Linked DNA regions of Homo sapiens. The protein of the gene in region 1 purifies or fractionates together with the protein of each later gene. This does not show direct contact. Each region holds a gene or a part of one and is shown in the gene's direction. Other genes may lie near its edges.

Region 1 (2,831 bases):
CAAATTCACTAAGTAAGCCAGGTACGGTGGCTCACATGCCTGTAATCCCAGCACTTTGGGAGGCTGAGGCAGGTGGATCACAAGGTCAGATTGAGATGATCCTGGCTAAAACGGTGAAACCTTGTATCTACTAAAACTAAAAAAATATAGCTGGGCGTGGTGGCATGTGCATGTATTCCTAGCTACTCGGGAGGCTGAGGCAGGAGGTTACAGTGAACCGAGATCACACCACTGCACTCCAGCCTGGGATACAGAGTAAGACTGTCTCAAAAAACAAACAAACAAAAAAATGCGCTAAGTATAATAGTAGCAACTGGGCAAAGTGGCTTATGCCTGGAGTCTCAACACTTTGAAAGGAGGCAAAAGGATTACTTGAGCTCAGGAGTTCGAGACCTGCCTGGACAGCATAGCAAGCCCCCCATCTACAAAAAACTTAAAAATTAAAAAATGCAGTGAGCCAAGATCATGCCACTGCATTCCAGCCTGGGCAACAGAGCAAGACTCCATTTAAAAAAAAAAAAAAAAGAAGGAAAAAAGGAAGCTAGGAAGGAACGGATTAGCAAATAAATTCCAACTGCTTGATAAGAAAATAGTAAACCCAGTGGCATTTACTGCAGGAATATAAGGTTGGCTCTGGCTCATTCGTATCTTTGTATTTGTGCATTCATCATTATGGATGATGCCTGGAATTTGCCCAGAGGGATGCTCAAGACCCTTTCAGACACATTTTTTTTTTCTAAACTTATTTATTTATGAATGACAGAGTCTCGCTCTGTCACCCAGGCTGGAGTGCAGTGGCGTGATCTCAGCTCACTGCAACCTCCAATTCCTGGGTTCAAGTGATTCTCCTGCCTCAGCCTCCCAAGTACCTGGGATTACAGGTGTGCACCACCACACCCAGCTAATTTTTGTATTTTCAGTAGAGGCGGGGTTTTGCCATGTTGGCCAGGATGGTCTTGAACTCCTGAGACCCCCCTGATTCAGCCTGATTCAACCTCCCAAAGTGCTGGGATTACAGGAATGAGCCACAGTGGCCGGTGGTGTTCTTTTTTTTTTTTTTTTTTTCCAGAGACAGTGTCTTGCCATGTCACCTAGGCTGGAGTGCAGTGGTGCAATCATAGCTCACTGCAGCCTCGACCTCCTGGGCTCAAGCAATCCTCTCACCTCAGCCTTCTGAGTAGCTGGGAATGCAGGCATGTACCACCAGGCCCGGCTAATTTTTTTATTTTTAAATTTTTTTTTTTTTGGTCGAGACTGTGTCTCACTATATTGCCCAGGCTGGTCTTGAAATCCTGTTCAAGTTATCCTTCTGCATCAGCCTCCCAAAATGCTAGGATGACAGGGTTGAGCCACTGTGCCTGGCCTCTATTTCTAATGTCTAGGCAGCAACTGTTGTTGTGTTGTTCCTGTTACATAGTCTTATTACCCATTTGATACAAAGTTCAGATTGATTGTTCCTGTTCGTATTCCATTTTGGGTTTTCCCTCTATCTTTGTTGATTTTTTAAAAAATTAAATATGTAAAAGAATAAAGGGCCAAGCAGAGTGGCTCACAGTTGTAATGCCAACAATGTGGGAGGCCAAGGAAGGATGATCGCTTGAGCTCAGGAGTTTGAGGGCAGCCTAGGCAACATAGAGAGATCTCTTCTCTACAAAATATATTTTTAAAAATTAGCTGGATGTGGTGGTGCACGTATGTAGTCCCTGGTACTCAGGCAAAGGACTGCTTGAGCCCAGGAAGTAAAGGCTGCAGTGAGCCATGATAATGCCACTATACTTCAGCCTGTGTGACAGAGTGAAACCCTGTTTTTTTTTTTTTTTTTAAAGAAAAAAAAGAATGTAATTTTAAACATCAGAACTGTAAGGTACTCTGAGCTGGCCATACCATGGTCAAGCCATTGTGACATCCCCCCGCCCTTGTGATAATGTACTTTGTGATATTCCCCTGCCCTTGTGAATGTACTTTATAAGATACATCCTCCCCCACCTAGTGAATGTACCCTGCCATTGGCCCTTGTGACAGTACACCTTTCCTCTCCTTGTAAATGTACTTTGTAACCTTCCTCCCCACCCTTGTGATGATACACCCTCCCCGCCCTTGTGAATGTACTTTGTAACATCCTCCCCGCCCTTGAGAATGTACTTTGTAACGTCCACCCCACTGCCTACAAAAAAAATTGCTCCTAACTCCACCGCTTATCCCAAACCTATGAGAACTAATGATAATCCCACCACCCTTTGCTGACTGTTTTGTTGGACAGCCCATCCACATCCGGATGTAATACACAGCCATTGTTGCTCGCACAAAGCCTGCTAGGTGCTCTCTTTACTCAGACGCATGTAACATTTTGTGCTGAAACCTGGGACATTAGAACTCCTCAGGAGACCCATCCCCTGTCATTACACTCCCTCCATGAGGAGATCCACCTATGACCTCGGGTCATCAGACCAGCCAGCCCAAGGATCGTCTCACTAATTTCAAATCGGTAAGCGGTTTTTTTGCACTTGGATAAGCGGTTTTTTTGCTCTCTACCTAACCTCTCTCACCTCCCTTCAATCTCTCTTCTTTCAGTTTCAGTTTCTCTCCCTTCCTAGTAGAGACAAAAAGCAGACACATTTTATCCGTGCATCCAAAGACTCCGATGTTGGTCATGGACTTGGGAAGACAGTCTTCCCTTGGCGTTTGATCACTGCGGAGATGCCTTCCTTGATCATTCACCCACATTCCCTTGATGGCAGGTCAATTGCAGGGATGCCTGCTTTGGCTGCTCACCCACATTAAAGCCCAGGACTCAGTCAGGGATGCCTACTGGAAGACTGGTAGCTGCCCAC
Region 2 (7,122 bases), on another chromosome or scaffold:
GGGAAGGGGTGGAGGAGAATGGGGAGGAAATGGGAGTGAGGCCACCCCAGGTAAGGTCAGCTGCAACCTCTGGGCTAGGGTGACGCCAGAAGAGAAGATAGGGCCTGCAGTGCCTCTCCCCCATCCACAGCCCTGGGTGCACATGCCACGAGCTCCTGCTCACTCCACCTCACATCCCCACACTTGTGCATGAACAACACACACACATGGAGAATAGTCACAGGCTCACCTTTCACATGCATGCACACAGAAATTGTGCATGAACACACGCATGCACACGGGCCCCTTGTGTTAGTGTAGACATTTTTGAGAATTCTAAACAGGCAGAATATAGGGGCCAAAGGACTTTAGACCAACTCTCACGTATGACAGAGGCACTAAGGCCTAGAAAAAGGAAGCCTCATAATTTGGTGACCTAGGCAGATCACTCTATGTCCCCCCATGCATGTGCATGTTGTGTGTGTGTGCGCGCGCACACACACACACACACACATGCACGCACGCAGTCCCACCAGCTGTCCAAAGCTCCTTCCATAACCCTATCTTCTCAACAGCCTCTCTCTCCCAGGACACCCACAGGCTTAACCAAGTCCCACCAGGAGTGCCCCGAGTTTCCTCCCAGCTATTCCAGCAGGCTGCTGGGGGGAATACAGTGTCGGGACCAAGATAGACTCTGCCCCTCTTGGTGGGATGGCTACAGCCCACAACCACAGCTGACCACAGCAGCCCCCGACTGCCTCTCTCCTCTCAGAGCCTGTTTCCGGGTTCAGACCTTCTTCCTCCATCTCTCTTTCTGGGTCTTTCTCCCTTGCTTCCTTTCTCTACCTCCAGAAAGGAGGCTGTGATTCTCTGTTTTTCCCTCTCTTTCCTGGTGTCTCTCTCATTTCTCTGTTTCTCTCCAGTTTTCTGTCTCTGCTGGGCTTGTCCCTCTCGCTCCATCTTCTCATCAGGATCTTTTTTTTTGCCTTCCAGGAAAAGCTGACGTGGTGCCCCTGGTCAGTGGGAGTGAGGCCTTCTGGGGTGGGGGAGTCCTGGTTGAGCAGCCACAGCTGGGGTGCGGCTGGCGCCCTGGCTAGGGGCAGCAGGAGCAGGAGCAGAGCGAGAGGCAGCGGAATGGGAGGAGAGAGGGCTGGACCTCTGCAGGCAGGAAGGGGAGCAGGGGGAAAGAAAAACTGTGGGAGGGAGTGAGCCCCCCTCCCCTGCTAGGGTGACCAACTGTACTGGTTTGCTGAGACTGTCTCGATTTTAGCATGGAAAGTCCCATGTCCCAGAAAACCCATCAGTTCCAGGTGAACCAGGACTGTTGGCTGGTCACCCTACAAGCTGCCAGGGACCCACAGGAGACAGGGCCAGGACTCACAGGAGGGGCTCCCAAGCTTGGCCTCCTAGTTCTGGGGACAGTCAGGGCCGCACATACTCACCAAGGGTCCCCATCTCAGGCCTGAGCCCAATTTAGAGGAGGCCAGGAGAGGGGAGATGGCAGCCCAGACAGCCCACAGGAAGCTCCCAGCCTGAAAAGATCAGGGAGCCCGACTTCTGACTTGTCTCCCTGCCTGCTGGCATGATCTCCTGTGAGGTGGGCTTTACAGAAAGAACTTGAGCTCTGACAGCAAGAGAAGAGCAGAGGGGCAACCCAGGAGGTCATACGCCCCATCCTCAGAGGCCTGCACAACTGCTCCTGGGCTCTGCTGAGGAGCAGGCCCACCTGTCCCACTGTGAGACACCTTGGAGAGTCAATAGTCCTTGGCTGAGATCCTGGCGGCCTTATTGTCCTTCCTGGTGGAAGCGGGTATGGCCACACCTTGCAGGCAGTGGCAGGACCTGAGCAGACCAGGAAGATACATCAGTGACCAGCACGCACAGTCTCATTTCTGCCCAGGTGGGCTGGTCCCTCCCACTTTTCCCGCCCTCAGCCCCCCACATCTGTTTTGAGGTGGGAGTCTGAGCTTAGTGTTTGGCTGTCATTAAGGTCTTAGGTAGGGAATGAGGGGACAGACTCCCTGCCCCCAGAAGGCTGCTGACATACTCACCCACCCAACAGAGCATGGGTCTCCTACACTGTATGAAATATTCTCTAAAATGTCTTGGGCATGCCCCTTCCCTAGCCTGGGCCCAAAGGCCCTATCTGTAAGTTGATGAGGAGATGAAGTGGGTGAGCTCTAAAATGCTTCCTTCTGATGACCACCCAACTTGTCCATCATGCCATGAAGGGGGCGCTTACAGAGTGTCTTCCCTGTGCTGGAGATCAATAGCACCTGGGAAGTTAAGGCCTCTGCCCTCAGTGGGCTTCCTCTCTAGTAAGGGGTCGCACATTAAGCACGCATGAATAAATAATCACAGCTTATAGGAGGAGCTATGAAGAAAAGTCAGGAATGTCTGAGAGAACAGTCACTGGGAACTGAGGGCTGAGGAGGTGCTTGTACTCTGACCCTGATGTGCTTGCAAGGAGGGAGGTGGGGTGGGAACTATGAGCTCCTCAGAGCACCCTGGAGGTAAAGCTGGTGGCACAGACTTTGTGCAGGTGAGGGTGTGTGTATGGGCTGTGCAGAACATAGTGAAGCCCCCTCCACCAGGAAGCCCTCCCTGACTGACACTGAGGTCACTGAGTCTCCCCTCTGGTTTACTGAACCCTGGATGTGTTTCTTGCAGCCTCTGGTTGGCCCACCAAATTCAGGACTTTCCTAGAAATTCTCCAGCACAGTCAGGATGATGCAAGAGAGGGCTTCCTCTGCAGGGGAAAGAGAGGGTGCTCTCCATTGGACCATAATAATATCCTCAGCATCAGACTCGGGTGTTTTGCAGGCAGCATGCTGGGGACTTCTGTGGCCTTGCTTGGTGACAGGGAATGGGGTGTGATGAGCTGGGGCAGGCTTCCTGGGGATGCTTTCAGCCAAAGATGAGCCCTGTCTGCCCTTGGCCCTGCTGAGAGGGTAAGTTGAGTCATGAGCAGAATTCAACCAGTTATCAGATGGAAGGCCAAGGAAGCTTGGGGAGGGCTACTGAGGGGATACGGTAGGCTTGTCTGTGGAGAGCAAAATTCTTCAGTCTACAAAGTTCTTTTCTGGGCTCCTTCATCTTTCGGTTTCTCTTCCAGCTCCCTCGTTTTGGGCCTCTTTTGTTTCCCCATTCCCCTCCCCTGGGCCTTCCCGTTTGGAAAAGGGGTCACATATCCTCACCCTGGAGGCGTCTGCCCCTTCCACACAGTTGGTGTTGGAACAGTGGAGCTCAGAGAGGCCGATGCTGACCGCGTAGATGTCCAGCACCAACAGTGGGATTTTGGGCCCTGTGGGGGACACAGAGAGAACTCTCCGGGAGTGCGGCCCCTTGGCCTCCCCTCTGGGTGCCCAGTGGGCAGTGGGCCTGGGTGGCTCAGAATCCCAGCCAGGAGCACTGAAGGTCAACAGGCTCCCGCCCTGAGTTTTCTGAGCCAGGCCTCCCTGTTTCCTCCCCAGCCAGTGGGGAGCGCAGTGAGGGGCGGGGCCTGGAGTCTTGGGAGCTCCCTGGACAACAACATGCATTTAGCGCAGCTCAGTCTCAGAGCCAGCAGGATATGTTTTCTTAAAAAAAAAAAAAATGCCTAACATCTTGGCTTTCACCGAAGGGTTGGTATCTGCTTTGTACACTTTGGCCTTCTTGGCTTTTCACTGAAACACACACACATGGATGCACACTCACTTCCACACACAAACCCACACCAAGACAGACACACACACACACTCACACACAAACTCATGTACATGGTTTCATACCCACATCCATGCAAACACACATACAAATCCAGAAATACGCACCCTCACACCCACAAACTTGTACACACACACACACGTATACACACCAACACACATACAACCCTGGCTTGGACAAAAGCTTCCCGTTTTTTCTTGTTTGAAGTGGAAATCTCCCACCTTCCATGAGATTCAATTTCTCGCCCTTCCCCCGCTAAAATCCTCCTGGCCCCATCATTTCTTGGGTCCTTTCCAGACAGTGCTGTGTCTTTAAGGAAGTTGAAGCTGCTAAAAGTGAGTGAGAGAGAGAGAAAAAACACAACCCAAAAAAATTTGGCATCTCTTCCCCCCTCAAGTTTCTGGTGTCACTTATGAAACACAGGTCCTTGTTGCTGCAGAGAAGCAGTTGTTTTGCTGGAAGGAGGGAGTGCGCGGGCTGCCCCGGGCTCCTCCCTGCCGCCTCCTCTCAGTGGATGGTTCCAGGCACCCTGTCTGGGGCAGGGAGGGCACAGGCCTGCACATCGAAGGTGGGGTGGGACCAGGCTGCCCCTCGCCCCAGCATCCAAGTCCTCCCTTGGGCGCCCGTGGCCCTGCAGACTCTCAGGGCTAAGGTCCTCTGTTGCTTTTTGGTTCCACCTTAGAAGAGGCTCCGCTTGACTAAGAGTAGCTTGAAGGTAAGCCAGTGGGGAGGAGGGCTCCAGGGCCAGCGGCGGGAGCGGGAGGCCTGTTGGACATAGGGGCTGGTTCCCTCTTGGTCCATCCCTGCTGGTCTGAGGTGCGTGGGACAATCCCTAGCTTGGAGCCGTCCAGGGGGCATCTGCTTCTTCCACAACCCACAACTGAGGCCCCAGAAATCCCAGCTGCGTTTGGGCTGAGCCTCTGGCCTCACCCAAGTCAGCTGAGAGGTCCTGGCGGGGGTTTATTTAGGCAGCTGCCTGGCTAAGTTTGAACAGAACAGGCCACGGGTGTGATTCCACAGAAAAGGCCTGGTGTCTGCTGCGGTCATGGCCGGAGGAGCGGGAGAGGGCGGGTGGAGTGGATGGGGGTGGTGTGCACTGCACAAGGGGCCTCGTCTGGGCCAAGGCAAAGCATACCTATGGGGGGCTCCGGTGGGAGGGACTGCGGCCAGGATGTGGGAGGGCAGGGGGAGGTTCTGCAAAGTGCTGGGGGAGGGGGGTGGCTGGAAAACAGATTTCAAGTCATAAAGTCAGCTAGGAACAGGCCGAGGCAGGGAGAACTCTCCACTCGGAGGAGGAGCTGGGGTCCTCTTCCATCCCGTCTTCATCCTGCCTGGCTGCGTGACCTCGGGCAAGTCTCCGCCCTTCTCTTGGCCTCAGTTTCTCCTTCCGTAGGATGGGGGCGGTGGGCTAGGTGGTGTTGGGATTTAGCTGGGTTATGTGGGACAGGGCCTCCTGATGGGAAAGAGCTCTGGCTGGGCTTGTGGGAGGAATGAGTCCCTTTGGCAGGTTCTCGGGATCCCCTGGGTGACATGCCTTTCTCTGCAGGAGGCACCATGCAGGAGCTGCATCTGCTCTGGTGGGCGCTTCTCCTGGGCCTGGCTCAGGCCTGCCCTGAGCCCTGCGACTGTGGGGAAAAGTATGGCTTCCAGATCGCCGACTGTGCCTACCGCGACCTAGAATCCGTGCCGCCTGGCTTCCCGGCCAATGTGACTACACTGAGCCTGTCAGCCAACCGGCTGCCAGGCTTGCCGGAGGGTGCCTTCAGGGAGGTGCCCCTGCTGCAGTCGCTGTGGCTGGCACACAATGAGATCCGCACGGTGGCCGCCGGAGCCCTGGCCTCTCTGAGCCATCTCAAGAGCCTGGACCTCAGCCACAATCTCATCTCTGACTTTGCCTGGAGCGACCTGCACAACCTCAGTGCCCTCCAATTGCTCAAGATGGACAGCAACGAGCTGACCTTCATCCCCCGCGACGCCTTCCGCAGCCTCCGTGCTCTGCGCTCGCTGCAACTCAACCACAACCGCTTGCACACATTGGCCGAGGGCACCTTCACCCCGCTCACCGCGCTGTCCCACCTGCAGATCAACGAGAACCCCTTCGACTGCACCTGCGGCATCGTGTGGCTCAAGACATGGGCCCTGACCACGGCCGTGTCCATCCCGGAGCAGGACAACATCGCCTGCACCTCACCCCATGTGCTCAAGGGTACGCCGCTGAGCCGCCTGCCGCCACTGCCATGCTCGGCGCCCTCAGTGCAGCTCAGCTACCAACCCAGCCAGGATGGTGCCGAGCTGCGGCCTGGTTTTGTGCTGGCACTGCACTGTGATGTGGACGGGCAGCCGGCCCCTCAGCTTCACTGGCACATCCAGATACCCAGTGGCATTGTGGAGATCACCAGCCCCAACGTGGGCACTGATGGGCGTGCCCTGCCTGGCACCCCTGTGGCCAGCTCCCAGCCGCGCTTCCAGGCCTTTGCCAATGGCAGCCTGCTTATCCCCGACTTTGGCAAGCTGGAGGAAGGCACCTACAGCTGCCTGGCCACCAATGAGCTGGGCAGTGCTGAGAGCTCAGTGGACGTGGCACTGGCCACGCCCGGTGAGGGTGGTGAGGACACACTGGGGCGCAGGTTCCATGGCAAAGCGGTTGAGGGAAAGGGCTGCTATACGGTTGACAACGAGGTGCAGCCATCAGGGCCGGAGGACAATGTGGTCATCATCTACCTCAGCCGTGCTGGGAACCCTGAGGCTGCAGTCGCAGAAGGGGTCCCTGGGCAGCTGCCCCCAGGCCTGCTCCTGCTGGGCCAAAGCCTCCTCCTCTTCTTCTTCCTCACCTCCTTCTAGCCCCACCCAGGGCTTCCCTAACTCCTCCCCTTGCCCCTACCAATGCCCCTTTAAGTGCTGCAGGGGTCTGGGGTTGGCAACTCCTGAGGCCTGCATGGGTGACTTCACATTTTCCTACCTCTCCTTCTAATCTCTTCTAGAGCACCTGCTATCCCCAACTTCTAGACCTGCTCCAAACTAGTGACTAGGATAGAATTTGATCCCCTAACTCACTGTCTGCGGTGCTCATTGCTGCTAACAGCATTGCCTGTGCTCTCCTCTCAGGGGCAGCATGCTAACGGGGCGACGTCCTAATCCAACTGGGAGAAGCCTCAGTGGTGGAATTCCAGGCACTGTGACTGTCAAGCTGGCAAGGGCCAGGATTGGGGGAATGGAGCTGGGGCTTAGCTGGGAGGTGGTCTGAAGCAGACAGGGAATGGGAGAGGAGGATGGGAAGTAGACAGTGGCTGGTATGGCTCTGAGGCTCCCTGGGGCCTGCTCAAGCTCCTCCTGCTCCTTGCTGTTTTCTGATGATTTGGGGGCTTGGGAGTCCCTTTGTCCTCATCTGAGACTGAAATGTGGGGATCCAGGATGGCCTTCCTTCCTCTTACCCTTCCT
Region 3 (6,344 bases), on another chromosome or scaffold:
TGCCTTGTGAGTGGTCAACACTGCCCAGTGCAAGTGAGGCTGGAAGGCTTTGGGGACCTCCAAGTTTTCAGTAACCCTGTGTTACCCCAAGGGAATTGTTTTGCCCACAGATTTTAGCAGGTTGGAGCTTTCAATCTGTCCTGTTTTGGGGGTTTGTGGCTTAGATGCTGGGATGAGAGAAGCCACCTAAATCCAAAGGAAGGAGTTTGCAGCGTGTTGCATCAGCCAGCCAGCAGACACCCAGCTGTCATTTGCATTCTCAGCAACAAAAGCCTTGGCCCCTCATGACTATGGGTGTCACCTGCCCTGTGTGGCCCAGGGCCAGGTGGAAGCCATCCATGACTGAGTAAAATCAGAGTAGCATCCTGCTCTGCTCTCCTGTTTGCAAGGTTAGGAGTTGGCTGAAAACCAGCTGAAGAGTGGCAAGTGTGAATGCTGTTTGTTGAAGGCTGATGGGATGGTTTTCAGCCATTGGAGTTCTGGTGTGGGCACAGCAGGGACAGTTGCTGGCAAGATGGGTGTGTGTCCTGCCCTGACAGTCACGTGCCTGACAGGCTCTAGACCTAGCAGGGCCACTCAAGGATTTACTGTCCCCTTGGCCATGGGAGATGGGAGAGGGACAGTCTTCCTGTGCAGCTGAGCACTGCAGTGTAGGGGAGAAAGAACTCTATTTCTCCCCTTTTAGGGCCCCAGGCTGGGCGGGAGAATTAAACTGACATAAGCTAAACTAACAGGGTCAGGTGCAGTGGTTCATGCCTGTAATCCCAGCAACTTGGGAGGCTGAGGTGTAGGAGGATTGCTTGAGGCTAGGAGTTCGAGACCAGCCTGGGTAACATAGTGAGACCACCATCTGTACAAAAATTAATAAATTAGCCAGGTATGGTGTTGCATCTGTGGTCCCAGCTACTTGGGAGGCTGAGGTGGGAGGATCACTTAAGCCCAAGAGGTTGAGGCTGCAGTGAACTGTGATGGCACCACTGCACTCCAACATGGGTGACAGAGTGAGGCCCTATCTCAAAAAAAAAAAAAAAAAAAAAATAAAGGGAGATGGGTTAATGGGAGAAAAAACATAGGATTTTTTTTTTTTGAGATGGAGTCTTGCTCTGTTGCCCAGGCTGGAGTGCAGTGGTGCGATCTTGCCTCACTGCATCCTCCACCTCCTTGGTTCAAGTGGTTCTCCTGCCTCAGCCTCCCGAGTAACTGCGACTACAGGTGTGCACCACCACGCCTGGCTAATCTTGTATTTTTAGTGGAGATGGGGTTTCACCATGTTGGCCAGGCTGGTCTTGAACTCCTGACCTCAAGTGATCCAACCACCTCGGCCTCCCAAAGTGCTGGGATTACAGGTGTGAGCCACCGTGTCCAGCCAGGCATATTAATTTAACACAAGTTTTATACAGCACAGGCTCCCTTATAATGAAATGAAGACTCAAAGTGGCAAAATTAAATCACTTATATACTGACTTGGACAAAGACTAGCCACTTGTAAAAAAGCAACTACATGATGTGGGGATGCTTGAAAGAGTTGTTTTCACAAGGTCTGTACCAAATTCTGTCGGCCTTGACTTCCTGTCGTCCTTGATGATAAAATCATTTTATTTGATATGGGGAGGGCGTCTTTCACTTGGGAATTTCATTTGCTTTTAAGAAGCAGAATGGAGGTCAGGGTGATCTTGCACTGTTTTTTGATTTTTTTTAAAAAAGGCCTTGCTCTGTTGGCCCAGGCTGGAGTGCAGTGGTATGGTCATAGCTCACTGCAGCCTCAAACTCCTGGGCTCAAGCGATCGTCTTACCTCAGCCTCCCGAGTTGCTGGGACCATAGGTGTGCACCACTATGCCTGGCTAATGTTTTTGATTTTTAGTAGAGACAGGTTTTCACTGTTGCCCAGGCTAGTCTCGAACTCCTGGGCTCAAGCAATCCTCCCACCTCAGCCTCCCAAAGTACTGTGATTACAGGCATGAGGCACCGTGCCAGGCCTCTTCTGTTATTGTTTTTTTTTTTGTTTTTTGTTTTTTTTTGGCTCACCGCAACCTCTGCCTCCCAGGTTCAAGCGATTCTCCTGCTTCAGCCTCCCAAGTAGCTGGGACTACAGGCGTGCGCCACCACGCCCAGCTAATTTTTATATTTGTAGTAGAGATGGGGTTTCAGCAGGTTGGCCAGGATGGTCTTAATCTCCGGACCTCATGTTCTGTCTGCCTCAGCCTCCCAAAGTGCTGGGATTATAGGCGTGAGCCCCCGTGCCTGGCTTTTTTTTTTTTTTTTTTTTTTTTTGAGATGGAGTCTCGCTCTGTCGCCCAGGCTGGAGTGCAGTAGCATGAACTCGGGCTCACTGCAACCTCCGCCTCCTGGATTCAAGTGATTCACCTGCCTCAGCCTCCCGATTAGCTGGGATTACAGGCGTGCCACCACGCCTGGCTCATTTTTGTATTTTTAGTAGAGACGGGGTTTCACCATGTTGGTCAGGCTGGTCTTGAACTCCTGACCTCATGATCCGCCCGCCTTGGCCTCCTGGAGTGCTGGGATTACAAGCGTGAGCCACTGTGCCTGGCCTAATAGTCGATGTGCCTGAGCAGCATGTTTTGGAGTGGCATGTTCTTAACTCCTTCAAGAGCAAACAGGTTCCCCTTCCCCTGGGGAGGGTGGGTGAGGACACAGGTCTTTTCCTGCCACCCGTTTGCAGGGACACGTGATGGACCGTAGGAAGAAGGCACTGACCGACTACAAGAAGCTGCGGGCCTTCTTTGTGGAGGAGGAGGAGCATTTCCTGCAGGAGGCTGAGAAGGAGGAGGGGCTCCCTGAGGACGAGCTGGCTGACCCCACTGAGCGGTTCAGGTCACTGCTGCAGGCGGTCTCGGAGCTGGAGAAGAAGCATCGCAACCTGGGCCTCAGCATGCTGCTGCAGGTGCGGGAGCCCCGCTGGGTCTGCCCACCATCGGGCCAGGGTGGACGCAGGCAGCAGCGAGCCATTGGGGGACCATTGCCCGAAGTCAAGGCTTAAAAGCCCAGCCTGACTCCCACTGCCGTGGCCTTGCAGGGCTGAATTTCGGGAATGGGTGGGTGGTCAGGGAAGGTGATGGGAAGGGGTTTTAAGTTGAGGAGGGTCTGAGGTGTCCCTGACCTTCACAAAGGAGGGCACTTGGCATCCCGAGTGCCCGAGCATGGAAGGCTCCTGCCTCGCCCTGGGGTCCTGAAGGCAGAAGCAGCCAAGAAACCCAACCTCAGGGCTTTTCTTCTGCCTCTGCCCAGGGCCTGGCCTGAACCCCAGACCCTGCAGCAACCCAGATGGCCCTGAACGGTTCAGTTGCCCGTGCCAGCCATAGGTGACAAGGCTTTGGCCCTGGGGAGACGGAAGTCTGGGCCAGGCCCTGGGTTTGTTGTGCTCAGGACAGTACCTCATGCGCTGTCTCATGTGCGCTCTCTCTTTCGCTCTCTCCTTTTGCCTCTGTCTCTGACTCTGTGTGTCTCTTTCTCTTTTTGTCTCTCTGTCTTTCCCTCTCCCCTCCCATGCAGTGATGGCGCCAACCCGTGGCAGTCCCAGAGCTGGAGGCAGGAGGATGGATCCTCATCTCCATGGGAAGTGTCAGCGTGTGGCTGCCAGGGAAGCGTGGCAGGCGCCTGGCCTTGGGTCCATCTACATAGTTGCGTGTTTCAACAATGTCCATTTATCCTTCACCCCGAGGCGTGTTTTGGGGGCTGCAAACACCTCCCGGTAGAGGCTGGACCTGAGGACCCTTCCCACCTGTGCCCGTCCCTTCCTGAAGTCCTAGCCACAGCCCATCCTCCATGAGTCCCGGCAGCTCTGGGTCATGCCCTTCCCTGGTCACCCATCTGCCCCTCACCTCGTCATCCAGGGACCCAGACCCTGCACCTTCCATGTGGGCCCACAGATCCTTGGCAGGTACCTGAGGTGCACCATTGAGTGTCGGATTTGGGGTTAGCATCCAGAAAGAAGAATGCGCATGACGCTCTGTGAAGGCTGGAACTCAGGTCTTCAGGGAGAGAAAGGAAGACTGGATTGCACCTTGATGCCTCCTGAGGAGGCGGCCCCCCTCTTGAGGTGGGCGTGGGCCCGGCCCAGCCTTATCCAAGTCGCTCTGTCCACCTCCCCCTTCCTGGCCCCCACCCCACTCCTGTGCCTCCCAGGAGCCCTCCCTGTGCTCCACCTGCCTCCGCAGAAGGAAGCCTCTTTCTCTGTTTCCCTGGGTGAGGGGGCTGGCAGGTGGCTAACCCCATTTAGCATCTCCAGGCCCTGCCATCGTGTCTCATCTTGCTGTTATCTCTAGCTCTTTCCCTCCTCCCATTTCCTTTAGTAGTTGAATTTTGCAAAGCTTGTAGCAGTAGCTCAGTTGCCTGCAGCATCCTTGTGTGTAGATAAATTAGTCGACAGAAACTCAGCACTGGGGACAGGATTGCAAAGTCGGGGACATAGATGCAGACAGTTGTTGAGATTTGGGGATAGCCGGGCTTGTGAGCGGTGCCCATTTCCAGATGAAGCCTTTCAGCCCTTCTGAGTCCCCGGCCCTTGGTGCGATGTCTGTGAGTTTGACCTGCCCAGCGTGTGGGCTGGCTCAATGCTGAATAAAGTGGGTTTGTGTCAGCTCGTTTGCTTCGTCTCCGTGTGTCCACCTGGCCTCTTCCCCCTGCCCTGGCCACCCTCCAGTGTCAAAGGAAACTTCCTCGTGACACGTGCTAAAGCATGGTGAGGAGGACTTTGATTGGGACCATTGAGATGGGTGTGGGACCCTTTCCTTGGGGCCTGGGGGGAGATGGGGCTCCACCCCGACGTAGCAGGGCAGGGGTTGGAGGAGCGAGGAGCAGTATAGGGTCCATGGGTGGGAATGACTGTGAGGAGACATCAGGGCTGAGGGGGCTCTGGCTAAACCCACCTCACAGAGTCCTTGCTGCAGGCAGGCAGGGCGATCAGACATTGGCTGCAAACGGTCAGAGAGGAACCCAGTCAGGTACCATTGAGGGTGGTCAGATATTATGGTTAACCAAATTAGGGTTCTTGCTAAAACTGGATTTCATAAGAAAGGGCAAAGAGGGCCCTAGGAGAAGATTCCAGAGCCTGGCCAGAGTTTGGCCAAGTAGAGAATCTTTGTCAGCACGCCAACAACATCCCGACCCTGAGACCTCCAGTTTGTCTTTCTCACTGTCTCCGCCTGCTGCAGTCTGCTGTCATCCCTGAGCATCCCTGCCCCTGCCCTGCACACCTGTGATGCTTGCCCGGACAGGTCCTGATGGCAGAGTCTCCCACAACATCAGTGTCTCCACATCACCAGGTCCGACAGTGGCTTCACCATCCTCACCTAACCTAGCTGACCAGCAACATCCCACCCTGTCAATCACAACCTCTTTCTATTTAAGAAAATTATATATTTATGGGGCACAGTGTGATGTTTTGATATCTATGTACATTGTGGAGTGACAGATTAATGTATCCATCTCATGTTTTTTTTGGTGGTGAGAATATTTGAAATCTACACTCAGCAATTTCAAATACAGTCATCCCTCTGTGCCTAAGGGGGATTGGTTCCAGGACCCCCTCATGGATACCAAAATCTGCAGATACTCAAGTACCCTGCAGTCAGCCCTCCCTCTGCACATATGTGGGACAGTCAGATACAGAGGGCCAACTGCGTACAGTACACGGTTATCAGCTGAAGTCACCATGCTGTGCAATAGACCTTGAGTTTATTCTTGTATAGCAGGGACTCTGTACCCTCTGACTAGAATTTCCCCAAATCCTCTTGTCTCAGCCCCTGCTAACCACCGTTCTACTCTCTAATTCTATAAATCAACATTTTGATTCCACATATAAGTGAGATCATGTGATATTTGTCCTGTTCCTGGCTTATTTCACTTAATATAAATGTCCTGTAAATTCACCCATGTTGCAAATGGCAGGGTTTCCTTTTTTATGGCCAAATAGTATTCCATGATGTGTATACACCACATTTTCTTAAGCCATTTATCCACTTTATCCCTTTATCACTTTGCTTCTAGACCACGTAGGTTGATTCCGTATCTTGACTGTTGTAAAAGTGCTCTTAAGAAACACAGGAGTGTGGGTATCTCTTCCATATATTCATGTCGTTTCCTTTGGGAAAATACTTAGCAGTAGGATTGCTGGGTCACGGTACTCTTTTTAAGTTTTTGAATAACCTCCATATGCTTCTCCATAATGGCTATAATAATTTACATACTCACCAACATTTATTTTCTTTGAAATTAGTCATTCTAAGAAGTGTGAGATAATCTCATTGTGATTTGGTTTACGTTTCCCTGATGATTAATGATGTTGAGCATTTTTTTATATACCTGTTGGCCATTGGTATGTCTT
Region 4 (7,983 bases), on another chromosome or scaffold:
GAGTCACAATCGTTTTCCCCAAATCATTATAAATATTGCATCATTACTTTCTGACGTTTAACAAAAAAGCTTTTGCTTGATTTCTTTCCCTTTGTAGGCTGTAGATTTTTTCTGAAAAATGCTTGCAAGACATTTTTTAAATTCTTGAAATTAAAACAAATTCTGCAGGATATTTTTACTGTATAGTCTCTTTCAATTGATTCTGCCTGAATTCACTAAGCTCTTTCACATGCAGACTAAATGAAAGCCCATGAACGTTTTCTATTATGTTTTTCATTATTTCTTTTTTTTTTGGTATGTGTGTGTGAGTATGTATGATTGTTTACACCTATTATTCAAAGCTTCATTCTCACTTCTCTGAATCTTATATTTATCATTTCTTCATATTTCATTGTTTTTTTTTTTTTTTTTTTTGAGATGGAGTCTTGCTCTGTCACCCTTTAAAGCAGTGGCATGATATGGCTCACTGCAACCTTTGCCTCCTGGGTTCAGGCAATTCTCCTGCCTCAGCCTCCTGAGTAGCCAGGGCTACAGGCGTGTGCCACCACGCCTGGCTAATTCATTGATTTCATCTATTGTCTGCAACAGATCTTTCCTTCATGGCTTTCAGAATATACTAACTCTACCAAAACCTTGAGAGTGGAAATCTAGCCTCAGGGACCAAGAGAAAATAAATTTCTGTTGTTTCAGTCATCCAGGCTGTTAATATACCAGCCCTAGCAAACTAATACATACCCTTAAACTTCTACTTCACTTTCAAAGAGAACCCCAATCATGAATCATTATAATTCTCCCAGGTCAATGAAGGTTGCAGAAAAATCCTACCCTTAGAACTGGTCAAAAGGAGTCCCTATCCTGGTCTAGTGCTTTAAAGGGCAAAATCTAGTTCTTTCCAGCTATGCCCTGCCCTAAAGGAATCTTTGGGGCCAAGAAGACGTGTTCATTCAGAACTTGTGCCTTCACTTTTAGACAATAATTTGAGTACCTGGTCCCTAAAATTCTTTGCTCACACAGCCCCAAGAAGTCTAACAGTGACTTTTCCCGAGGTCCTTCCTACTGAGGGCAAACAGTGCTTTCAGTATCTATAACCCTAGGCCAAAAATGTAGCCAAAAGGCCCCAAGGTCCAAGAGGTGACAAAGGAGTGGGAGAGCAGTAAGTTTGCCAAATAAAATACAAGACAACTTGTTAAATTTGAGTTTCAGATAAACAACAAATAATGTCTTAGTATCAGTTCCAAGTATTTCATCAGACAAATTTATACTAAGAATGTATTCATTGTTTATTTAAAATTCAAATTTAACTGTACATCCCTTTTTTAAAAAAAACAAATATGGTAACCCTAGTTGGGGGCCAGAGTTGGGTGTCCATATGCTGGGCATCTATGTGCATAAGCACATGGCCCATTATGATATCGTTATTGATACCATTAGTATCAAATTGTGTATGAAAAGGTGACACTAGCAAGGCAGGATATATGAGCCAATCAATTCTCTTTCATTAACCCACATTCTGACACAATAGAAATTCTAAATTCAACCTGGCTTCCCTGGTATTTTCAAAATAGGAAGAACATATTTAACTTTTACACTTTGTTGGCTATATTTATAATGTTTAAATATTTAGACATTTTTAATTTATGTGGTTCATTTTCAATCTTGTCCCAGCTATAACGTCAAGAGGTGGTACTGTTGCAGAAAAGCACTCTAAGCGTCAATATTATTGTTAATCACATTTAAAGAATGATGAAAGTAAGACTTAGAAAGGTCATTCAGCTAGAGGAGTCCATTTTCAATGTCAGATCTCTCTAAATAGAAATCAAATTGTCTTCATCACCAAAAATAATTTACTACTTACAAGTAAATATATATTTTTTTCTTTTCTTTTTCTTTCAATCATGGCTCACTGCAGCCTTGATGCCCCCAACCCGCCTCCCCCCACCCCCACCACCAGGCCAACATGGCAAAACCCCATCTCTACAAAAAATGCAAAAATTAGTCAGGCATGGAGACAAGTACCTGTAGTTCCAGCTACTTGGGAGGCTGAGATGGGAGGATCGCTTGAGCCTGGGAAGTCAAGGCTACAGTGAGCCACAATTGAACCACTGAACTCCAGCCTGGGTGACAGAGTGAGACCCTGTCTCAAAAAAAAAAAAAAGAGAGATGAAGTCTCCCTTTGTTGCCCAGGCTGGTCTTGAACTCTTGGCCACAAGTGATCCTCCCACCTCAGTCTCCCAAAGTGCTAGAATTACAGGCATGAGCCGCTGTGCCTGGCCATAAGTAAATATATTCTTTGATCACATAATTTAATATGCATGCATAAAACTAATGCATTTCATGGGATATTAAAGATAGGTATAAAGGAAGTCCTAATTGTTCAGGCTTTGATCTTGAGTTTTATTGGCCCAGACACCTGATTTTATAAATGTGCCCACATTTGATAAAACTGTGGGTATGTGTTGTAAATATACAATTCACAACACTGACTTATAAAACAAACTGGCAATTTAAGTTTACAATGGCTAATATATCTGGCAGAATGATCATTTGTAGCAATTCCTCTTTATGGGAAATGCCAACCAGAAGCTCAAATTATAACTCAGAAAATTGCTTGTCTAATGTTGGAACAAAGGGAGTATATCTTAGTTTTTTGTTTTTTTGAGACAGGGTCTTGCTCTGTCACCCAGGCCAGAGTGCAGTGGTGCAAACATGGCTCACTGCAGCCTCGACCTCCCAGGCTCAAGTGATCCTCCTGCCTCAGCCCCCAAAGTAGCTGGGACTACAGACGTGTGCCATCATGCCTGGATAACTTTGTATTTTTTTTAGAGATGGGGTCTCACTATGTTGCCCCAGCTCTGCCTTGGCCTCCCAAAGTGCTGGGATAACAGACGTGAGCCACTGCTCCTAGCCCAGGAGTATATATTCTTTGTTTTTTTGAGATGGAGTTGCCCAGGCTGGAGTGCAATGGCGTGATCTCGGCTCACTGCAAGCTCCGCCTCCCTGGTTCATGCCATTCTCCTGCCTCAGCCTCCCGAGTAGGTAGGACTACAGGCGCCCGCCACCACGCCCGGCTAATTTTTTGTATTTTTAGTTGAGACGGGGTTTCACCGTGTTGGCCAGGATGGTCTCGATCTCCTGACCTCATGATCCGCCCGCCTCCACCTCCCAAAGTGCTGGGATTACAGGCGTGAGCCACTGCGCCCGGCCAGGAGTATATATTCTTAAGCTAACATTTCCATCAAGATAGGTGAATTATATGCAAAAGAAAGGAAATCAGTGTATCGAAATGATATCTGCATTCTCATGTTTGTTGCAGCACTATTCACAACAGCCAAGATTTGGAAGCAACTTAAGTGTCCATTAACAGGTGAATGAATAAGAAAAATGTGGTGCATATACACAGTGGAGTATTATTTCGCCATTAAAAAAAATGAGATCCTGTCATTTGCAACATGGATGGAACTGGAGGTCATTATATTAAAGGAAATAAGGCAGGCACAGAAAAAAAACTTGGTATGTTCTCATTTATTATATTTGTGGGAGCTAAAAAATTAAAACAATTGAACGTATGAGAAACGGTAGAACGATGGCTACCAGAGGCTGGGAAGGGTAGTGTGGGGCGGGGGAGGACCCCGGTGGTCGGTGAGCATGGTTAATGGGTACGAAAATACAGTTTGAATGAATAAGATCTAGTATTTGATAGCACAATAGCATGACTACAGTCAACAACAATTTATTGTACTTTTTTTTTTGAGACAAGAGTCTTGCTTTGTTGCCCAGGGTGGAGTGCAGTGGAGTGATCTCGGCTAACTGCAACCTCCGCATCCCAGGTTCAAGCTATTCTCCTGCCTCAGCCTCCCGATTAGCTGAGATTACAGGCGCCCGCCACTACGCCCGGCTAATTTTTTGTATATTTAGCAGAGACGGAGTTTCACCATGTTGGCTAGGCTGGTCTCAAACTCCTGACCTTGTGATTCACCTGCCTCAGCCCCCCAAAGTGCTGGGATTACAGGCGTGAGCCACCACTCCCAGCTTATTGTACATTTTTAAATGACTAAAATAACTGGATTGTTTGAAACACAAAGGATAAATGCTTGTTATGGATACCCCACTTACCCTGATATGATTATTACACATTGCATGCCTGTATCAAAATATCTCATGTACCCTATAAATATGTACACCTACTATGTACCCGCAAACATTAAAAATTAAAATATTTTTAAAAAATTAATTAATTAATCAAATTCCATTCTAAGAACAATCAAGCCGAAAGTGAGGAATTACTTTAAATGCTTTGAAGCTCAGCATCCCGGGGTTCTTATCCGTCACTAATTACCTATACATTTGCAGGTCTCAGTTTCTTTGCTTTGTAAACATAGGCTTCTTGTAAGGATTGGGATTATACACTGAAAAAGCTTAGCACAGTATTATTACTATTATGCTATCTACATTATATTATAGGTGAAACACTACAGATTATAATACATACAATATATACTAATTGTATTATATATTGTTATTTTTTGTCATTATGCTATTTACTATTGTTCTATTTAATAACTCTCTAGATAATTTAACAGGACAAAGGTACAGAACAATCTGGCCCTTACAAGCCGGCGGAGACGGGTACGAATTACCATGACAACAGCGCGCGCCTCGACATTGTCGGCTCGCGCGTTGTTTGGGAAGAAAAAGCCTAGGCTGCGTGTTGCGTCATCATTACGCGCTCTTAAGGTTTCTCCGTGGTGTTTTGGAAGGTCCCGGCACGGCTACCGTCGCCCCACGCTAGGAAATTTTTTTTTTATTTTCAACCTTTGTTACATAGCACTGAGGCTACAAGATCGTAAGTACTGAGGGAAGAAAGAACAAGCGAGCGATTGAACGTTAAAAAGATGCCTTAGCATGCACTCCACCTCTGAACCTTCCTGTGTGTTCTTAATCCTATCAGCTTCCTCTCAGCTGGGATCGCGCCGCGTCAACTTCCGGGCGGATGCCCGCCAGCACGGCCTCCGCCGCTCCCCTTCTTTGGCCCCTTTGTGTCCCCGCAGTGTCGAGGCGCGGGCCCTGGCAGGTCCTTTCTCGAGGCAGGGGGCACGGTAGCACAGGGAGCTTCTCTTTGTGGGCGGGCGCGAGGCCCGCTAGGGGGTTATACTGGGGAACGTGCCTGCGCGTGCTTGGGTAAGAGGAGGTTGCATGAGGGTCAGCTCGTGGTTTCAGTAAGGAGGGGCGGGCGGGGGAGGCGGACGAAGGGGAGTGAAAAGCAATGGAAAATTTTAAAAGATACCCCCGTCCACCTTCTAATTGTTGCGGCCTAACAATGAAGCGCAGCCATAACAGTCCTGAGCCACTGGCATGTTTGCGGGCCCTTTATTGCCTTGGGAATAAACTGCTGTGGCATTGTATCGTATATTGTTTTCATGGCCTTTTTTCCTCTCTTTATTTTTCCCCTGCAGATAGTTCATTTAAAGCCCCCATCCCTGCAAGGTGGTGCTTTCTACCAATATGAATCTTTTCAACCTGGACCGTTTTCGCTTTGAGAAAAGGAATAAGATTGAGGAAGCGCCCGAAGCAACCCCTCAACCTTCCCAGCCTGGCCCTTCTTCACCAATTTCTCTTAGTGCTGAAGAGGAGAATGCTGAAGGGGAAGTTAGCAGGGCAAACACTCCTGATTCAGATATAACTGAAAAAACAGGTGAGTTACAATGTTAAAATTGATGTAACATCAAGGACAGTTTTTAAAAGATGAAAGGCAGAAGGGATTCTCATTTTTATTCTTGATGTCATATATATTGATGCATTGTCCTGCGGTGTGCCCTTTTAAATACAGCTTTGGGACTGCCATAAGCACCATGTACCCTCAACTGAGCATCCATCCATTGTCGCCTCACTTTTATATGAGTTCTTCGAATATGGCCCCATGGTGGAAGTTGAAATTAGAATTTAGGGCATCCATAGGTCAGAACGGTTGCTATTGGAAGAGCGATGTCAGTGATTCAGTCCTATGATAAACTTTGAGGCTATTTGGGCAGACATTTTCATTCATTCCAGTATTCCCTCAAAATATTGATCATCTACTGTGAGCTAGACATTGAGCAAGGTGCCTAAAGACAACCTCTGTACACAAGGGAAGATCAGATCACATCAAGTTCTTGCATCCACCTGACTTCCTGGATGTCCTCAGAATGCAAATGAGTAATTGGTATTCTTCATGGTGAATGAACATTTTTAACCTCATCAGCAGATTGTCAGAGACAAAAGTATTTGAGGATAAGCCAAAAATTAAGATTTCCACTCGAATCTATGTTCATTGAACAGTTAACTATTAGAGGAATATATTTGAGCTCTTGTTGTATTATAGGAATAGTGATAAGTGCTTCACCTTCTGTCATTTAATTTGCACAATAATCCTACAAGGTAGATATTACTGACATAGAGGTTAATGTGAAATGAGATTCAGAGAGGTTATTAGGAACTTGGTAGAGCCTGAACTCAAGTCCTGGCAGTATGATTCCTGAGCATAAACTAATTAGTTAGTTTCTTAGGAAAGGTGAAAGGAATGTTGGAAGTTATATTTTAATATTTATTTCAGTAATATCTTTTTTTATGCAAAACTCTGTTTCGTAAACAGCTTTTAACTTAATGTAGCCTGAAAGATTGGTAACACACATGTTTATCCTTGGTATCTTTTTGTTTGCCACCCTTCTACTTAAATGTAATAATGATGGCAGATCCTCTGCAAGTTATCATTAGAATAACATTTTTAAATACTTTGGTGTAATTGGAAATTGGCAGAATGATTTGGTAGATTGGATTAGGAGTCAGATTTACAAAGGCTTTGTCTAAGTAGTTTTGAATTTAAATGCTATAGGGAACAACTGAAGGATTTTAAGCACCAGGATTTTAATCCCTGTGTTCACTCTTTGAATAGATATTTGACATCCAGGTATTTTAATGCTTTTCCAATGAATATATTTGTCTGTTTCCTCTGTAGTTAGATAGTTCAGGAAAGCCAAGGTGTAGACATGGGATTTCGAGTCCATAGAAGCTTCTGCTTCTTCATTTTTGTTAAATGTGGGACATTAGACAAGTCATTTGAAATCTGTGATCCACACTTTTTTCATCTCTGAAAGTGAAAGCAGTTTGTAAACTGGATTTCAGTGGAATGTTTTAGTTATTTATCAGTATTGGTCATGTGAAATCTTTAATTTCCTTTAGTGATCAGAAGATATTTTTCTGTTTTTATTTCTTTCTAATGATAACACTCATTTTCTCTTTATTGGGACTTTTTTCCATACATAAATTCTGCTTAAAAACTGAGATTGCTTTAGGAATTACATGATCAGCCTTGATGGCTTCGGGAAATAAGAAAACTAAGTTTGTTCTAGGAATGTTGAGAATTAATCCTTGTAGGAATGGAGCACTTTGCTTTAATAAAAGATTGTTTTAAATGATACTGTGAATTTTGGAGAATCTTGAAAACTGAGAAGTTTAGATTTTACATTGTAAGTATTAGATATCCATTGAAGAACTTACAGAGTGAATGGAAAATGGTGAAAGAAAGTTTTAAAAGTCAGTTTAGCAGTAGTGACTAGTACACACTGATTGAGGGTAGGGATTGAAGGGAAAGAAAACATTTAGGCAACTCCTGTAATTGAGCTTAATGATAGCGGTAGAAATGGAGAAGAAAGAGATATGAGAGGTTTCAAAGTAATGAAGGGCAGGGTTTAGATCCCTGATGGGAATGAGATAAGATGAATGGTAAGATTTTTATGCGCGGTGGCTGAAGCCTGTAATCCCAGCACTTTGGGATGCAAAGGTGGGCAAATCACCTGAGATCACAAGACCAGCCTGGCCAACATAGTGAAACCCCGTCTCTACTAAAAATACAAAAATTAGCCAGGCATGGTGGAGCGTGCCTGTAATCCCTGCTGCTCAGGAGGCTGAGGCACAAGAATTGCTTGAACCTGGGAGGCAGAGGTTGCA

The links.
Region 2: the proteins of ZNF562 (region 1) and ISLR purify together in Homo sapiens (affinity purification with mass spectrometry; 3 studies listed by BioGRID and IntAct, with this or other methods). This does not show direct contact.
Region 3: the proteins of ZNF562 (region 1) and RNF187 purify together in Homo sapiens (affinity purification with mass spectrometry; 3 studies listed by BioGRID and IntAct, with this or other methods). This does not show direct contact.
Region 4: the proteins of ZNF562 (region 1) and SMARCAD1 purify together in Homo sapiens (affinity purification with mass spectrometry; 3 studies listed by BioGRID and IntAct, with this or other methods). This does not show direct contact.

Annotation. Positions count from the first base shown.
Region 1 is NC_000019.10:9,641,279-9,644,109, reverse strand, and holds the end of ZNF562 (zinc finger protein 562), read left to right. Parts: 3' UTR 1-2,303; downstream 2,304-2,831. UniProt on the Homo sapiens protein: May be involved in transcriptional regulation.
Region 2 is NC_000015.10:74,169,621-74,176,742, forward strand, and holds the start of ISLR (immunoglobulin superfamily containing leucine-rich repeat protein precursor), read left to right. Parts: upstream 1-4,089; 5' UTR 4,090-4,399; intron 4,400-4,926; exon of another isoform or gene 4,927-5,033; intron 5,034-5,230; 5' UTR 5,231-5,238; coding exon 5,239-6,525; 3' UTR 6,526-7,122.
Region 3 is NC_000001.11:228,490,372-228,496,715, forward strand, and holds the end of RNF187 (E3 ubiquitin-protein ligase RNF187), read left to right. Parts: intron 1-2,681; coding exon 2,682-2,903; intron 2,904-3,511; coding exon 3,512-3,514; 3' UTR 3,515-5,817; downstream 5,818-6,344.
Region 4 is NC_000004.12:94,202,893-94,210,875, forward strand, and holds the start of SMARCAD1 (SWI/SNF-related matrix-associated actin-dependent regulator of chromatin subfamily A containing DEAD/H box 1), read left to right. Parts: upstream 1-4,972; 5' UTR 4,973-5,178; intron 5,179-5,191; exon of another isoform or gene 5,192-5,350; intron 5,351-5,453; 5' UTR 5,454-5,502; coding exon 5,503-5,692; intron 5,693-7,983. UniProt on the Homo sapiens protein: DNA helicase that possesses intrinsic ATP-dependent nucleosome-remodeling activity and is both required for DNA repair and heterochromatin organization.